2 separate regions of the Homo sapiens genome follow, and region 2 is linked to region 1. A link means that fine-mapping ties the variant in region 1 to the expression of a gene that starts in the linked region. Tissue or cell type: whole blood. Region 1 holds a variant in brackets; the other region holds the start of a gene. All regions are shown on one strand. Distances are between the middles of the regions.

Region 1 (8,328 bases):
CGGATCACCTGAGGTCAGGAATTGGAAACCAGCCTGGCCAACATGACGAAACCCCATCTTCACAAAAAATACAAAAATTAGCCAGGTGTGGTGGTGTGTGCCTGTAGGCCCAGTTACTTGGCAGGCTGAGGCAGGAGAATCACTTGAACCCGGGAGGCGGAGGTTGCAGAGATCACGCCACTGCATTCCAGCCTGGGCGACAGAGCAAGACTCCAGTGAGAAGAAAGAAAGAGAGGAAGAGAGAGAGAGAGAAGAGAGGAGAGAGAGAAAAAGAAAATAAGGCTGGGTGCGGTGGCTCACACCTGTAATCCCAGTACTTTGGGGGTGGATCACGAGGTCAAGAGATTGAGACCATCCTGGCCAACCAACATGGTGAAACCCTGTCTCTACTAAAAATCCAAAAATTAGCTGGGCGTAGTGGCACACGCCTGTAGTCCCAGCTACTTGGGAGGCTGAGGCAGAATAATCGCTTGAACCCAGGAGGCGGAGGTTGCAGTGAGCCGAGATCGCGCCACTGCACTCCAGCCCGGGTGACAGAGTGAGACTCTGTTTCAAAAACAAAAACAAAAACAAAAAAGGAAAGAAAGAAAGGGAAGGGAGGGTGGGAAGGGAGAGAAGGAAGGGAAGGAAGGGGAGAGAGAGAGAGCGAGAGAGAAAGGGAGACAGTAAGGAAAGGAGGGAGGAAGGAGGGAGGGAGGAAGGAGGGAAGGAGGGAGGGAGGAAGGAGGGAAGGAGGAAGGAAGGAAAAAAAAAAAGAAAGAAACACAGAGCTGGGCGTGGTGGCTCAGGCTTGTAATCCCAGCACTTTGGAAGGTGGAGGTGGGCGATTGCTTGAGCCCAGAACTTTGAGACCAGCCTAGGCAACAAAGTGAGACCCTTTCTCTATTTCTAAAAACTTTTAAAACATTAAAATGAATAAAATAAAATAAAAACAGACTTCCCAAGGAATTAAAGTGCTGACCTGGCCTGGGAAGTGCTGGACTCAGGAATGGAAGGACACAGTTCTCAGATGCCCCCCGGGTGGAACCAGGCACTGGCACTACAGGTTGCCCTGGTGTGGTCATCTCTGTGGCCTCTGCCTCCAGTCATGCCCCTTCAATAGCAAGGAAAACAGCTCCGTAGATGCAGGACAATGGGCAGCATTCATTCACTCAACAAAGGCTTACAGAGCCTCTCATTGTGCCAGGCGCTGAGCTGGGTGAACAACAGCAGGAAACCAACCAGCAACCACAGGCAGTGTTGTGGATGAGAGTGTGGGGCTTACCGGCTGGGTGGCCTGGGGCAGGTGATTTCTCTGCTCACTGGCCTGTTTCCACATCTGTACACTGGGGCTTAGAACAGAACCTACCTCCTAGGATGGTTGTGAGCATTAAATGAGTTAGTACATGGGTAGGGCCTGTGATCATCCCTGGAACATAGTAAGTGCTCATTGAGTTAGCCAGTATTCACATACAGCAGGTCCTTGAATAACGTCATTTCATTCCATGTCTTTTTGTCATGACATTGGTAAGAGAAAAATTCGATTCCTGCAGGGGCCACTGTCTGCGTGGTGTTTGCATTCTCCCCACGTCTGCGTGGGTTTTCTCCCATGTCCCAAAGCTGTGCACGCTAGGCTCATTGGTGAGTCTGCATGGTCCCAGCACGAGTGAGTGTGGGTGTGTGAGCACCATGTCCTGTCCAGGGTAGGTTCCCACCTGGCATCCTGAGCTGCCAGGATGGGCTCCAGCCACCCACGACCCTGAACTGGAATAATTGGGTAAATAATTATCTTGTTTTTCTTTCTTTCTTCTTTCTTTCTCTTTCTTTCTTTTTTCTTTCTCTCTCTCTCTCTCTCTCTTTCTTTCTTTCTTTCGAGAGAGTGTCTCGCTCTGTCACCCAGGCTGGAGTGCAGTGGCACAATCTCAGCTCACTGCAACCGCCACCTCCTGGGTTCAAGTGATTCTTGTGCCTCAGCCTCCTGAGTAGCTGGATTACAGGTGCCCACCACCACAGTCAGCTAACTTTTGTATTTTTAGTAGAGATGAGGTTTCACCAAGATGGCCAGGCCGGTCTCGAACTCCTGACCTCAGGTGATCCACCCACCTGGGCCTTGCAAAGTGCTGGGATTACAGGCGTAAGCCAGTGCACCTGGCCTAATTATCTTGTTTTTCTTAATTTTTCTTAAATGTATGTATAGCTTACATTCATTTCAGTGTTTAATATTAGAAGTGTTTTGATCTTTAGAAGTTTGGTGATGTTTTTGTCACCAGAAATATGTCACAGGAATTCTATTCATTTATATCAATTAGCCTATGGTAAAATTGGTTTTGTTTCCCTTAAAGTTGCAGTTTCCAAGAGTCTATCAGCAACTTAAGTGAGAACTTACTGTATTTGTTATTATATATCTTCCACCTGTTATATATAACAGGTGGAAAAGTTTGCATAGCCTGAGGCTATAGCAAAGAAAAAAAATACAGCAACCTGACTTGGCTTTTACCCTGGGGAGGACTGCCTTGGCCTGGGAGAGCTCCTAGGTAGAAAGGGAGGACACACCCCTCTCTGAGGGACAGGGGCACTGGTTGAGTGTTGCCAGGATGTGGGCTGGGGAGGCCTCCTGGGAAGGGCATTTGGTTGGAAGCAGAGACACCTGGCTTGCCTGAGAGGGTTGGGTGAGATGGGAATGAAGACTGGGAGGCTGACCAGAGCCAGCCAGCGCATGTGGGGACCCAGGTGTGCAGACAGAGTCCACTCTGCGTGTGCACACTTATACGTGGTTCACAGAGCTTCTCCCATTTGAGTGACCTCACCCACTCCTCACAGGATAGCTCTCCAAGGTGAGTCTCACTGTCACCCCGCATAAGGAGACTGATGCTCAGAAAGGTAAGTGATTTCCCCAGTATAGGTCGGGGAGGGTCTGGAATAGTGACAAAGTGGTGGGACCAGAGCCAGGGACCTGCCACTAGGAAAAGAGGGCAGTTAAGGCAAGCACATGGAGGAGAGAGAGGAATGGAAGAGGTGAAGTTAGGGGAGGGTGAGAGGGAGAAAGAGAAGGCAGCATCAGAGTAGACGGTGTGTTTTATCCATAAACCCAGACTTGGGGAAAATAGATTTTCTTCTGTATTATTATTTCTGTATATTTTAAATCAAGTTTTATTTTGAACAGCAGTATAACTCCATAACAAAAAAATAAGCCAAAAAGGAAAAAAAAATAATTCCATCTCTGGCATTTGCTTCTCGTCTGAGCAGGTGGTCCACAGCCACTCAAAGTGTGGTCCACGGCCCGGTGCTGGTCTGCCAGAGATTCGCCACTGTTTTTCAGCACAACAGGCCCAGAAAATGAGAGTAAATGTTTAGAAACTCTTACAGCAATTGGACATGGTTGTTTTCTGCCTGTTGAATCTATGATTTAAAAGTTGGGCTTGTATTTCATGTATCTGCTTTTCATTTCATTTTTATTATTTATTTATTTTATTATTTTTTTTTGAGACCAAGTCTCGCTCTGTCACCCAGGCTAGAGTGCAGTGTCACAATCTCTGCTCACTGCAACCTCTGCCTCCCCGGTTCAAGCAATTCTCCTGCCTCAGCCTCCCGAGTAGCTAGGATTACAGGGGTGTAACACCACGCCCAGCTAATTTTTGTATTTTTAGTAGAGACGGGGTTTCACCATGTTGGCTAGTCTGTTCTCGAACTCCTGACCTCAGGTGATCTGCACCTGCACCGTCTTAGCCTCCCAAAGAGCTGGGATTACAGGCATGAGCCACCAAGCCTGGCCTGATAACTTTTTATTTTGAAATAATAATAGACTCACAGGAAATCACGAAAAAAGTACGTAAAATCCCATGAGCTGTTTACCCAGATTCTTCCAATGATGACATCTTATATAACAATAATACAATACCCAAACCAGGAAATGGACATTCATTTTCCTAATAGGTAATGATTTTGAACATCTTTTCCTGTGTTTTCTGCAACCCACATATCCTCTTTGGTGGACTGTCTGTTCGTGTCTTCTAGTTCTATTTGGATTTTTTTTCTGTTGAGTTTTGAGAGTTCTTTATGTATTTTAGATACAAGTCCTTTGATGGATATACATTTAATCATTTATTTTTACGATATTTTACAAAACTTTACATTTGGGATGGATTGGAAATTTTATAAAATCAAACTGGTCAATCACCACTGACAGTTTGAGAAGCAATCTTAGCATCTTCTTGCCTTAATGAAACAACCGCACCTGCACCATATTGAGTCCTGACTTTTTTCCCCAGATAATTTATTATAAATAATTTCTCCAACTTGCTCCATATCTTTATAACCACCACTTACAAGGTTTGCA[C/A]ACCTTCCATAGAGCAGCTGTACTGAGATTTACTCAGCCAATTCCCAAGGTTAGACATGACGTTATCACCCATTTCAGGGTCTTAGAGAAACTCTGAGTCACTCACCTTTGGTCACAAGGCTTTCTCAAACATTTTGGATAGAATGTTCTTAGTTTCCATTCTCACCATTATAGTTCAACTTGCTCTTTCATTAGAATTTAGGCATCAAGGTCAGACCAGATTGCTGGTTGGCCACATTCTGTGTTCTCATGGAAACAAAAGATCAGCGGCACTGAATCCAAACCACCCGAGCAACCCGGCTTTTCCAGTCCCAGATGCTTGATGGCACGGCAACAGTGGAGTCACTAAGAAATTTTACTTTAGTTCTATCACAGCAAACTCCAAACCAGGGGTAGCAGTCATCTGAAAAATGCAGAGACTATTTTAAAGGACAGACAAGTGCCTCAGATAGCATCAGAGAACAATGCCTAAGGTGCATGGATGGAAGCCAGTCTGCACAAAATGCTGAAAATAGGTCGTTCTGAGCAAGGGGGTCATGGAGAAGAAAGTACCAGCCCTCCATTCCTTACGCCCACTAGGCAGGTGCCTCTTCCCCTGCACCCAGGCTGACCCCTCACCTGGAAACTGACCCCTTCTCGGGTTTTCACACCTGTCTTGGACTTCCCCTTCTCCCTCCCTCCTTCCCTTTTTCTTTCTTTATTTTCTTTCTCTTTCTTTCTTTCCTTTTTTTTTTTTTTTTTTTTTTGAGATGGAGTCTCACTCTGTCACCAGGCTGCAGTGCAGTGGTGTGATCTTGGCCCACTGCAACCTCCACCTCCCGGGTTCAAGCGATTCTCCTGCCTCAGCCTCCCGAGTAGCTAGGACTACAGGCGCACATGACCATGTCCAGCTAATTTTTGTATTTTTAGTGACAGACAGGATTTCACCATGTTGGCCAGGATGGCCTCTATCTCTTGACCTCGTGATCCGCACGCCTCGGCCTCCCAAAGTGCTGGGATTACAGGCGTGAGCCACTGCGCCTGGCTCTTCTCTTTCTTTTCTTTTCCTTCCTTCCTTCCTTCCTCTTTTCTTTCTTTCTTTCTTTTTCTTTTTTTTTTTTGAGACAGAGTCTCGCTCTGTCGCCCAGGCCGGAGTGCAGGGGCGCGATCTTGGCTCCTGCAACCTCCACCTCCTGGGTTCACGCCATTCTCCTGCCTCAGCCTCTCCGAGTAGCTGGGACTACAGGCGCCAGCCACCACACCCGGCTAATTTTTTGTATTTTTAGTAGAGACGGGGTTTCACTGTGGTCTCAATCTCCTGACCTTGTGATCTGCCTGCCTCAGCCTCCCAAAGTGCTGGGATTACAGGCGTGAGCCACCGCTCCCGGCCCTTCCTTCCTTCTTTCTCTCTTTCTCTTTCTTCTTTTCCTTCCTTCCTTTCATTCTTTCCTTCTTTTTCTCCTCTTTCTCTCTCTCACTGTTTCCTTCTTTCTGTTTTCTTTTTCTCTCTTTTTTCTTTCTCTCTCTTTCTTTGGTTTGTTCTTTTTTTTTTTTTTTATTCCTGAGATGCATCCAAATTGGTATCTTTATTCTTTTCCCTTGCTATACAGTATTGCATTGTGTGACTATACTACATTCTTTAAAATTTCTTGTTGATTATACCTTTCTTCTTTAGTGCTGAAGCCAGTTCTGAATGATTACACTTTTATAAAAATTCTTGTGCAGCTCTTACTACACAAGGGCAAGAGTCTCTAGGGTATTTATCTAAATGCACAAAAGCAGAATTGTGCGGGGATAAGAGGTTATGGGCACCTTCAACTTACTAGGTGATGCGTGTTTTTCCAAATCGCACCCCTAGCCAGGAGTGTGTGAAGTGAGTTCTCATTGCTCCATATCCTTAGCAACACTTGTTATTGCCATTTTTTCTAACTTCTGATGACCTGGTGGTTACAAAATGATTGAATTGTAAATTTCAGTGATTTGTTTCTAGGCATACCTTTAGTAACTTTAAATATTTTTTTCAAAGTCTTTCTCTCTAGTTTTAAACAGTTCTCTTTATTTTTAAATTGTCCTAGGCTTACTTTTATATTGTTTTTTTAGATTTTGTTTTATCTGAAATTCTTGGTTTTAGCCATCCTATTGTGTCTATTAATTCTCATACTAGAGGATATCCTTTTGTGTTTTATAATTTTTTATTGCCTGCTTATTTCGGTGGTATTGTATCTGATAGAATCCTCTGTAGCCAAAGGTGCTATGTGGTTTGTGTTTCATTTTGTTTTTGAGACGAGATTTCACTCTGTTACCCAGGCTAGAGTACAGGGGTGTGATCATGGCTCACTGCAGCCTTCAACTCCTGGGCTCAGCCTCCCAGTTAGGCAGGATTAGAGACATTCATCATTATGCCCAGCTAATTTTTTAAAAAAAAATTATAGAGATGGGGTTTTGCTATGTTGCCCAGGCTGGTCTTGAACTTCTGGGCTCAAGTTACCCTCCTGCCTCAGCCTCCCAAAGTGTGGGATTACAGGCATGAGTCACCATGCTGGGACTAGTGCTATGTTCTTTCTCTAGGGTGTTTTTTCTTTTTCTTTTTTTTCTTTTTTTAATTGATCATTCTTGGGTGTTTCTCGCAGAGGGGGATTTGGCAGGGTCATAGGACAATAGTGGAGGGAAGGTCAGCAGATAAACAAGTGAACAAAGGTCTCTGGTTTTCCTAGGCAGAGGACCCTGGGGTCTTCCGCAGTGTTTGTGTCCCTGGGTACTTGAGATTAGGGAGTGGTGATGACTCTTAACGAGCATGCTGCCTTCAAGCATCTGTTTAACAAAGCACATCTTGCACCGCCCTTAATCCATTTAACCCTGAGTGGACACAGCACATGTTTCAGAGAGCACCGGGTTGGGGGTAAGGTCATAGATCAACAGCATCCCAAGGCAGAAGAATTTTTCTTAGTACAGAACAAAATGGAGTCTCCCATGTCTACTTCTTTCTACACAGACACAGTAACAACCTGATCTCTCTTTCTTTTCCCCACATTTCCCCCTTTTCTATTCGACAAAACCACCATTGTCATCATGGCCCGTTCTCAATGAGCTGTTGGGTACACCTCCCAGAAGGGGTGGCGGCGGGGCAGAGGGGCTCCTCACTTCCCAGAAGGGGCGGCCGGGCAGAGGCGCCCCCCACCTCCCGGATGGGGCGGCGGCCGGGCGGAGGCGCCCCCCACCTCCCGGACGGGGCGGCTGGCCGGGCGGTGGCTGCCCCCCACCTCCCTCCCGGACGGGGCGGCTGGCCGGGCGGAGACGCTCCTCACTTCCCAGACGGGGCGGCTGCCGGGCGGAGGGGCTCCTCACTTCTCAGACGGGGCGGCTGCCGGGCAGAGACGCTCCTCACCTCCCAGACGGGGTCGTGGCTGGGCAGAGGCGCTCCTCACATCCCAGACTGGGCGGCGGGGCAGAGGCGCTCCCCACATCTCAGACAATGGGCGGCCGGGCAGAGACGCTCCTCACTTCCTAGACGGGATGGCGGCTGGGAAGAGGCGCTCCTCACTTCCCAGACTGGGCAGCCAGGCAGAGGGGCTCCTCACATCCCAGACGATGGGTGGCCAGGCAGAGATGCTCCTCACTTCCCAGACGGGGTGGCAGCCGGGCAGAGGCTGCAATCTCGGCACTTTGGGGGGCCAAGGCAGGCAGCTGGGAAGTGGAGGTTGTAGCGAGCTGAGATCACGCCACTGCACTCCAGCCTGGGCAACATTGAGCACTGAGTGAATGAGACTCCATCTGCAATCCCGGCACCTCGGGAGGCCGAGGCTGGCAGATCACTCGCGGTTAGGAGCTGGAGACTAGCCCGGCCAACACAGTGAAACCCCGTCTCCACCAAAGAAATACTAAAACCAGTCAGGCGTGGCGGCGCGCGCCTGCAATTGCAGGCACTCGGCAGGCTGAGGCAGGAGAATCAGGCAGGGAGGTTGCAGTGAGCAGAGATGGCGGCAGTACAGTCCAGCTTCGGCTCGGCATCAGAGGGAGACCGTGGAAAGAGAGGG
Region 2 (8,328 bases), 41 kb before region 1:
CTCAGGAGGCTGAGGCACAAGAATTGCTTGAACTGGGAGGTGGAGGTTGCAGTGAGCTGAGATCTTGCCACTGCACTCCAGGCTGGGCAACAGAGTAAGACTTTCATAAATAAATACATACATACATACATACATAATTGTTCAGTATAATCCTATGTTGTCATTGTTTTCTTTTTATTTATTTATTTATTGCTTTTTAGATGGAGTTTTGCTCTTGTTGCCCAGGCTGGAGAGCAATGGCATGATCTTGGCTCACCGCAACCTCTGCCTCCCGGGTTCAAGCGATCCTCCTGCCTCAGCCTTCCGAGTAGCTGGGATTACAGGCATGCGCCACCATGCCCGGCTAATTTTGTATTTTTAGTAGAGACGGGGTTTCTCCATGTTGGTCCAGCGCTGGTCTCAAACTCCTGACCTCAGGTGATCCAGCCACCTCGGCCTCCCAAAGTGCTGGGATTACAGGCGTGAGCCACCACGCCCAGCCTTGTTGTTTTCTTTTTAAGAGGGTGGGGAGAGGCAGAGGCAAGTGGAATTGGAACCAGGACCTAAAGTCGGCTCCTTTTGCAGCTTGGCTTCTGGGTGGGGTTGATGTCTGAGGGTGGGACCCCAGGGATCCAAGACAGAAGAAAAGCCAGTGTTTCCACTCCCACCTCGCCCTCACCCCAGACAAGCAGGTGATCAGAGGCAGCAACCGGAACTAGTTCTCACCCAAAACTAGTAAACAGGAATCCTACATCGAAATGAGCCCATCTTCTTTACACCAAGGTTGATTCTCCTTACACCTTGTGCACCTTCCCTGGAGCTATGGTTTAAATGTTCCTGCCAAAACTCAAGTTGAAATTTAACTGTCAATGTAATGGTATTAACGATGGGAACTTTAAGAGGAGATTAATGCTCCTATCTCAGGAGTGGATTAGTGATCTCAAGAATGGGCTTCAGAAAAAAGGACAAGTTCAGCCCCCGTTTGATCTCTCTGTCTAGTGTGCTCACTCCGCCTTCCACCTTCTGCCATGGGATGACCCTCCCCAGACGCTGATGCCACGTTTTTGGACTTCTCTGCCTCCAGAACTGTGAGAAATAAGTTTCTTTTTTTATAACTTACCCAGTCTGTAGTATTCTGTTAACAGCAGAAAACATCAGGTGAGGCCAGAACTCTGATGCCGCCCTTGACATCACCTTAGTTCCCTCCTGACTGGATCAGTATGATGTCAAATTAATTGCAATGGTGGGTACTTACTAATTTGCATTTACTTTTCATTACAACATATCCCACAGGATTCCAGGGACCTGGGATGGTCTGTATTCTTGGCAGTTCTCAAGATCTACGAGTCTTATTTCCTGTTAACTTTTTTCCTTTTGCTTGATCCTATCGGGCACATGGATCTTCCTAAAGTTTTGATTCTGTAATTAGTGCTACCATAAAAAACTGTACAATTTTGGAGAGTGTTTTTGCTCAGTCATTCATTTTCTAGTAATATTTGTTGTGTTCCTATCATGTGCCAGGCATTGAGCCAGGCTTGGGGTTCAACTATGAATAGAACAGTCCTGGCTGTCAAAGAGCTTACAGTCTAACAAGGGAGACTGACAAGAAAACAGGCAGTCACAGTGCAGTGTGGTCAGCACTGCATATGTGAGGTGGCATATGCAGAGGGTGGTGGCACCGAAGTGGGGGGCACTACCCAAGCCCAGAGCTTACAGCCTTTTTTTTTTTTTTTTGAGATGGAGTTTCACTCTTATCGTCCAGGCTGGAGTGCAGTGGCGTGATCTCGTCTCACTGCAACCTGTGCCTCCTGGGTTCAACTGATTCTCCTGCCTCAGCCTCCCGAGTAGCTGGGACTGCAGGCATGCGCCACCATGCCCAGCTAATTTTTGTATTTTTAGTAGAGACGGGGTTTCACCATGTTGGCCAGGCTGGTCTCGACCTCAGGTGATCCACCCGCCTCGGCCTCCCAAAGTGCTGAGATTACAGGTGTGAGCCACCGCGCCTGGCCAGAGCTAACTCCTTTATAGCTCTAAAGGTTTATTGCCAGGTTGCTCAGTAGCTTGACTGCTGAGGAAGATTTTCTTTCATTCAATCATTTCAGTGAGTATACTTTTCATTTCTAGATGTTCTGTTTGGCACCTTTTCAAATACACCTGTTTTTTTTTTTCCTTTACAATTCCTGTTCTTTTTACTAGTACTTCCTATTATTTATCTTTGCCTTCATTTGAAACCTACTTCTTTCCTTTTAATTTTCTTTGAGATGGTTCTATTATCTCAAGTTCTTCCTGTTTTGCCCATTCTCTCTCATGATGGCACGTTTCTTTGAGCGGCTCATACATTTTTTATTGTGAGGATTCTTTTTTTCTTCCTCTTGGAGTCTCTGTGAGCCCTGAGTTGTAGAAATACAGCTATTGTGCAGTTTAACATTTGCTTCTGCTTGGTACCCTACGGGTCTAACTGGTTTAGCTGATCTATTTTTCCTTCAATTTCTTCACTTGGAGAAATTGTTCGATCATTTAGAAATACTTTACTGAACATGTACTATGTGCATAGTCCTATATCTGATGTTGTGGAAGATACAAAACAATGCAAGACAACACAAAGTTGCTGCTTCACATGAAACTACAGTTTGAAAGGGCCAAATACAGTATAGGCCCAAAGTTAGGTGACCATGTAAGGCAGAGTAAAAGGCTCAACGGTGAACAGCCAAGTTCAGAAAGAAAAACAGACAGTTGGAGAAAAATGGGGACGAAAAGCCCAAAGAAGGAAAAGGTTCCTGTGAGGAAGTTTCAGAAGGATGGGGAAGTAAATCATCCTCCCCTACCCCCACCCCCCACCCCCAAACTAAAACCTATCGCCTCTTCTGGGTAGAGAGTTAGTGTGGCACTAGGAACTTGACTTTGAGGTCCTTATTGAGAAAGCTAAATCAGAACCTAGGCAAAAGGAAGTCATTTAAGGTGCTCCTGGGGGATGTTTGATGAAAATTGTGTTTGATGGAGAAAACACAGCAAGTTGAAAGGGTTAGCAGGCTTTGCAAGTGATTTCACTAGGACAAGCCTGGGTTAGGGAGGCCAAGGTGAGGGAGAGAGGGAGTGTGGCATGCTTTGAACGTGGAAAGTACATAGTGTTCATTATCAGGAGTGGGAAGAGGGGAGGTAGCTTTTTAGGGGGTAAGGCAGGAAGGGAGTTAGAAAGGACAGACTGGGAAACCCGGACTAACAGTGGCAGGTGTCGATCTAAAGAAATTTCTCACAATGAACTGGCTATAGACTAAGTACAGACAAAGGGACCAGGTCTTCCATTGCTGTGTCCCTGCACACTCTAGGATCCGTTCAAACAGAAACTTTTATTGCGAACCCCCAAAACTAGCACGGTTCTGTTGTAGGTGTTGTTGCAGAGTGTCGGGCACGTTTACAAACAGGAACAGGGCACTTGCTGTCCTATCTTCCTCGCAGGGTTCTTGTGACGATTACACTTAAATCAACACGTATAAAGCATTTTAAAAAGTGCCTGTCACATAGTCCCTGCAATTTAAGGTCTAGTTGTGATTATTCACTTGTATTAACTAAGAATCAACTACAGGCGCCTAGCAGTGCCTGCATGTGCTCACACTGAGGCACTCACTAAAACCCTCAGGATCTAGTGAGGGAGACAGTCAAATACTTTAGAGCAAAACAAATTTTACAACCACGGACTCTGAGGAAGGCGTGCGAAGGCTCCACAGCTGGGGAGGGTGCCCACAGTCGCCGAGGGGACATCTGGATTTGCTCTGGTTGGGAGAGCATTCCTGGCAGAGGAGATGGAAAATGCGATCGGACAAAGAGGCTGGGACCGCGGAGGGGATCGGGCTCGGGGTCGGGGCTCGTCCTGCAGCAGGAGATTCAGCTCGCGCAGAGTTCCACGCAGGCCGCGGCGACTGGGATCTGGGCCGCAAAGGGGCGGGCAGAGAACTGCAGAGAAAACTCCCGAAGCCAGGGAGGTGGCTTGGAAGCGCCTCAGACCATATTGGGGACGTCTGGCAGCCAGAGGCGCCGAACCCCGCCCCCGCGTGCTCTGGGCATCCCGGGGGAGCGCCCCGGCCTGCGGCTGCCGCCACAGCTCCCGAGCCCGGGGCCCCGGCTGCCCGCCACCATTGACCCCCGGCCCGCAGCCCAGTGTCCTGCTAGGCCTCCAACCGGCCGGGGAGCCACATCCGGCGTGTCCCACCCGCCGCACCACGCTCCCGAGCTCCCCCGCGGCCTGGAGTGGTGCGCCCCGGCCCCGCCCCCTGACGCCGGTGAGGGGGCGTGGCCCCGTCACGTGACGGGGAGTGACCTCGCCGCCGGGCGCCATGGGAGCTTCGGACCCGGAAGTGGCGCCCTGGGCTCGCGGCGGTGCCGCGGGGATGGCGGGAGCCGGAGCTGGAGCCGGAGCTCGCGGCGGAGCGGCGGCGGGGGTCGAGGCTCGAGCTCGCGATCCACCGCCCGCGCACCGCGCACATCCTCGCCACCCTCGGCCTGCGGCTCAGCCCTCGGCCCGCAGGATGGATGGCGGGTCAGGGGGCCTGGGGTCTGGGGACAACGCCCCGACCACTGAGGCTCTTTTCGTGGCACTGGGCGCGGGCGTGACGGCGCTCAGCCATCCCCTGCTCTACGTGAAGCTGCTCATCCAGGTGGGGGACCAGAGGCGCCGTAGGGAGATGGGAGGCTGATGTGAAGGTGACAGGCCAGGATTTGGAGGATTGGGGCGGGCAGTCAATGGCGACGGATTTGGGGAGAGGGGTGGGGACGGCGGGTTTGGGGGGCCGAGTGGGTGGGATGGGAGGGAAGCCGTGAGGGAGTTGGGAACGCAGGGGTCACGGGTTTTAGGATACAGAAAGGAGACCAAGGGGTTAGAGTAATAACAGATACGGGAGAGGGTGGAAGGAACAAGCGATTTGGGGGAGTGCCAAGGAGGGAGCGATGGGCTGGAAAAACATATTTGGGAGATAAAGGAGTGGGGACGATGGACTTGGGATAGGGAAGGGAGCGAATTTGGGGCGAGGGAAGAAGCAATAGAATTGGGGGAGGGGCAAGAAGTTTGGGTGAAGAGATGGGGAGGAAGGTTGGGGGCCCAGGCAAAGTGTTTAGAGAATGAGGAGCACATAATTGGGGTAGAGGGGAACGGAGGCTCTGGATTTGATAGAGATGGATTTAAAACGTCTTGGGGTGGGGACAAAGTGGGCGCCAGGGCCAGAAATTTAGGAGGGAAAGAAGGACACCAGACTGGGGGTGGACAGAGGAGACGGAGGTCTTGGGTTGCATTGTGATTTAATTTGGTGGGAGAGTGCGAAGGCAAAGACTTTTGCAGGGGAATGCTATCGGTTTACCGGAGATGGGGGCTCTGGATTTGATGGCGACGACGGATTTGGTAGGAGGAGGGGACAGGGTGACGCGTATGGGGGGAGGGGAACAGATAGGGCCAGCATTGGGGGAGGGGAGTGGCAGCGATTTGTCTAGAGAGGGGAGCTAGGAGGAGGCTTTAAGCGGGGAAGGGGGATGACGCATTTGGAGGAGGAAATGGAAGTCATAGTTGGGGTCAGAGAGAGGAATCACAGTGCTTGTATCTGGGCAGATGAGGAGAAGGGGCACGGGAGTATTGAAATTGGGCAGAAGGGACAGTGGAGACATAGGTGGCAGGATAGGTAGGGACTACCAGAAATTGAGACCGAGGTAGGGATGTCTCTGGAACAGAGGGATGCATAGGCACTTGGCAGATTTGGTGGTGGCCAGCAATGCGGTACAGATGAAGTGTGCTGCTTGAGGAGTGAGCTGGAATGAAGGGCGTGTGGAGGTGTGAGAATTAGGTGGGTGTGGCTGGGATGGGTACAGTTTTGATGGGGGTCATTAGGCCAGAATTTTCCAGTTAAGAAGCTTGGGGGGAGGAAGGTAAAAATTGAATTGGAGACCCATCCAAGATTTGAGTTGAGGCAGGTGGGTGTCAGATTTTACCATCTTTATAATTGAACCGAGAGAATGCAAAATACAACTGGAATGAGAAGGCCTTGAGAATGAGAGTAATTGAAATCTGGGATCCGAGGAATGGTAATAGATTTGTGGGTGTGACCAGGAATATGACAAGGAATGAGGAGATTCAGTCAGGGGCATCAAGGTGCCTGACTAGACCCTAATTGTGACAGATTTGAAAATTGTTGATGGCGGAAGGTGTAGACCAGACTGGCATTTGGTTGTGATTTGGGAATGAGGGCTGTCTTACAGGGTTAAGATTGTATTTACAGCAGTTGAACTTGAAGTTTGGGAGATAAATTGGTGCTTTGGACCTGAGAAGTGAGGGTTCTGGAAACTGATGGAATGAGACTGAGTGAGGGCTAGGATTTTAGGGCACAGGTGGGAGAGTCTGTGGAGTGAAGGATACTGGAGCACAAGGGCTCAGTGTGAGGGAAATGAAGAAGTGGCTTCATCATTTGGATGATGGCAGATCTGGTTTGAAAGAACATTGAAATGAGGGTGGTTTGGGAAGGGAATGGGGGAATGAAGGACACCAAAGCGTGAGAAGAACTAGATGGTGGGCAGGTAAGGATGGATGAGCCCTGTTGAAGGACCAGAGGTGCCTGTCTGATTTGAACCCAGCTGGTGTTGAGTGTAACATATATTAGGGTAAGATCTTCAATGGGTATAGTTTGGGAATCAGAGTAATAACTTGCAGAAAGGCAAATTACTGGGAGTGGGGGTGTCAGGAGTGGAGTGACAGATTTGGGGATTGTCTAGATTAGGTGCGTAAGAATGCAGTGCCTTAGATTAGTGCATGTGGCTGTCAGGTTTGGGAGTCGGAGATTTTAAGATGACAGACTGTCCCTGCTGGTATCTGATATAGGGCCACAGCATTTGCCGTAGTTAGGACTGGGTTAACAGATTTGAGGTTGAAATTGGGTTTAATGACTTGGGAACAAATAATTAAAACTTGAAGGCAGGAGGAATGGGGGTGAGATACAGCCAGTGTGCCTATGATAACCCAATAGAAGTTAAGAAAATAGATTCAACAGATTTGGGAGCCATGGGGATATGGGATAACGTTACAAATTTAAGTATGAAATTGGGGTCAGTGGGACTCCCAAATAGTGTTGACTAAACTGGATAAGGACAGCAAAAGAGCAGTTGTGGCGATTTGGAGTGGAGGAATAAAGGAATACCACCTGTATTTAAGAGAACACAGATCAAGACAAAACTTAATTCAGAACAACCTTGGAGCTTTTAACCCAGAAGGGAAAAGGTCTAGAAGGGAAGTACTCACTGCCTGGGTCAGCTGACTCACCCCTTTCCTCCTTTGCTCCACTGGGTCAAAATTTTTTTCTTTTAAAGACAGTCCCCATCATAGAGGAGTTTTTAAATTTACAATCATTAATCTGTTAGGCATCTCAGAATCAGATCCATAGGAGATAGCCTGAACTTTGAAAAGCACTTGCTTGATAAAGGCAAAAGGGGACAGGGTTGATCCCAAAAAGCACTGGAAGCATACCTAATCCAGTTTACAAGGTAGCGCTTTCTAACTTGCCACTTCTACTGCCTCCCACAGCTGCAGGCCAAATCCTCTCCCACATGTCAGAGGAATCGCTCTGGTCCATGGGCCCAGCTGGCCTGCTTAGAGGGCACAGGGCTGGTATCCTGGCCCCTTGCCAAGGGAGGAAGGAGCCTTCTCACTCCCCACCTAGGTGCTGGTCTCCTTGACACCTTGCCTCCTCCCTGGCAGCAGGGGCTCTCACCCCTCGACAGAGACTTCCTGCTCCTCACATGGATATGGATGGTCCTTCACCCACCCGCGGGTTTAATAAATATTTCAGGCTGGGCGCAGTGGCTCATGCCTGTAATCCCAGCACTTTGGGAGGCCGAGGCGGGTGGATCACCTGAGGTCGGGAGTTCGAGACCAGCCTGACCAACATGGAGAAACCCCGTCTCTACTAAAAATACAAAAAATTTGCCGGGTATGGTGGCGGGTGCTTGTATTCCCAGCTACTTGGGAGGCTGGGGTAGGAGAATCACTTGAACCCGGGAGGTGGAGGAGGTGGAGGTTGCGGTGAGCTGAGAGCACGCCATTGCACTCCATCCTGGGCAACAAGAGTGAAACTCCATCTCAAAAAAAAAAATAAATAAATAAATATTTCAGATATAAGAAGCATCTGTACAGCAAGAACTATCATAGCCCTACAGAAATGAGGGGGTCGTTTTGTCACAGGGATGTAGGGTGATTGAGGTGAGAACGCAGCTAAGGATATGTTTGAGGAGTAGCTGGAATTTGAGGTAACAGTTTGCTAAGCCTGGGAATGGGAGGAATAGACATGGAGGTGTCTGCAGTAGATTTGGTAAGAAATTTGA

What was found.
Region 2: it holds the start of MTCH1, and the variant in region 1 is fine-mapped to the expression of MTCH1 in whole blood (INTERVAL, PIP 0.93).

What each region holds. Positions count from the first base shown.
Region 1 is chr6:36,941,038-36,949,365 of GRCh38, reverse strand. It overlaps a transcript of PI16 not described here. Among named protein-coding and RNA genes, the nearest start is that of PI16, 9.5 kb to the left of the region's middle. The variant C/A (reference allele first, on the strand shown) is at 4,316.
Region 2 is chr6:36,982,156-36,990,483 of GRCh38, reverse strand. It overlaps MTCH1 (mitochondrial carrier 1), which reads left to right and starts at 4,288. Exons shown (of 12, transcript NM_001271641.2): 1 at 4,288-4,631. The coding sequence starts at 4,311. RefSeq lists enhancers at 3,684-3,893, 4,012-4,734 and a silencer at 3,984-4,573.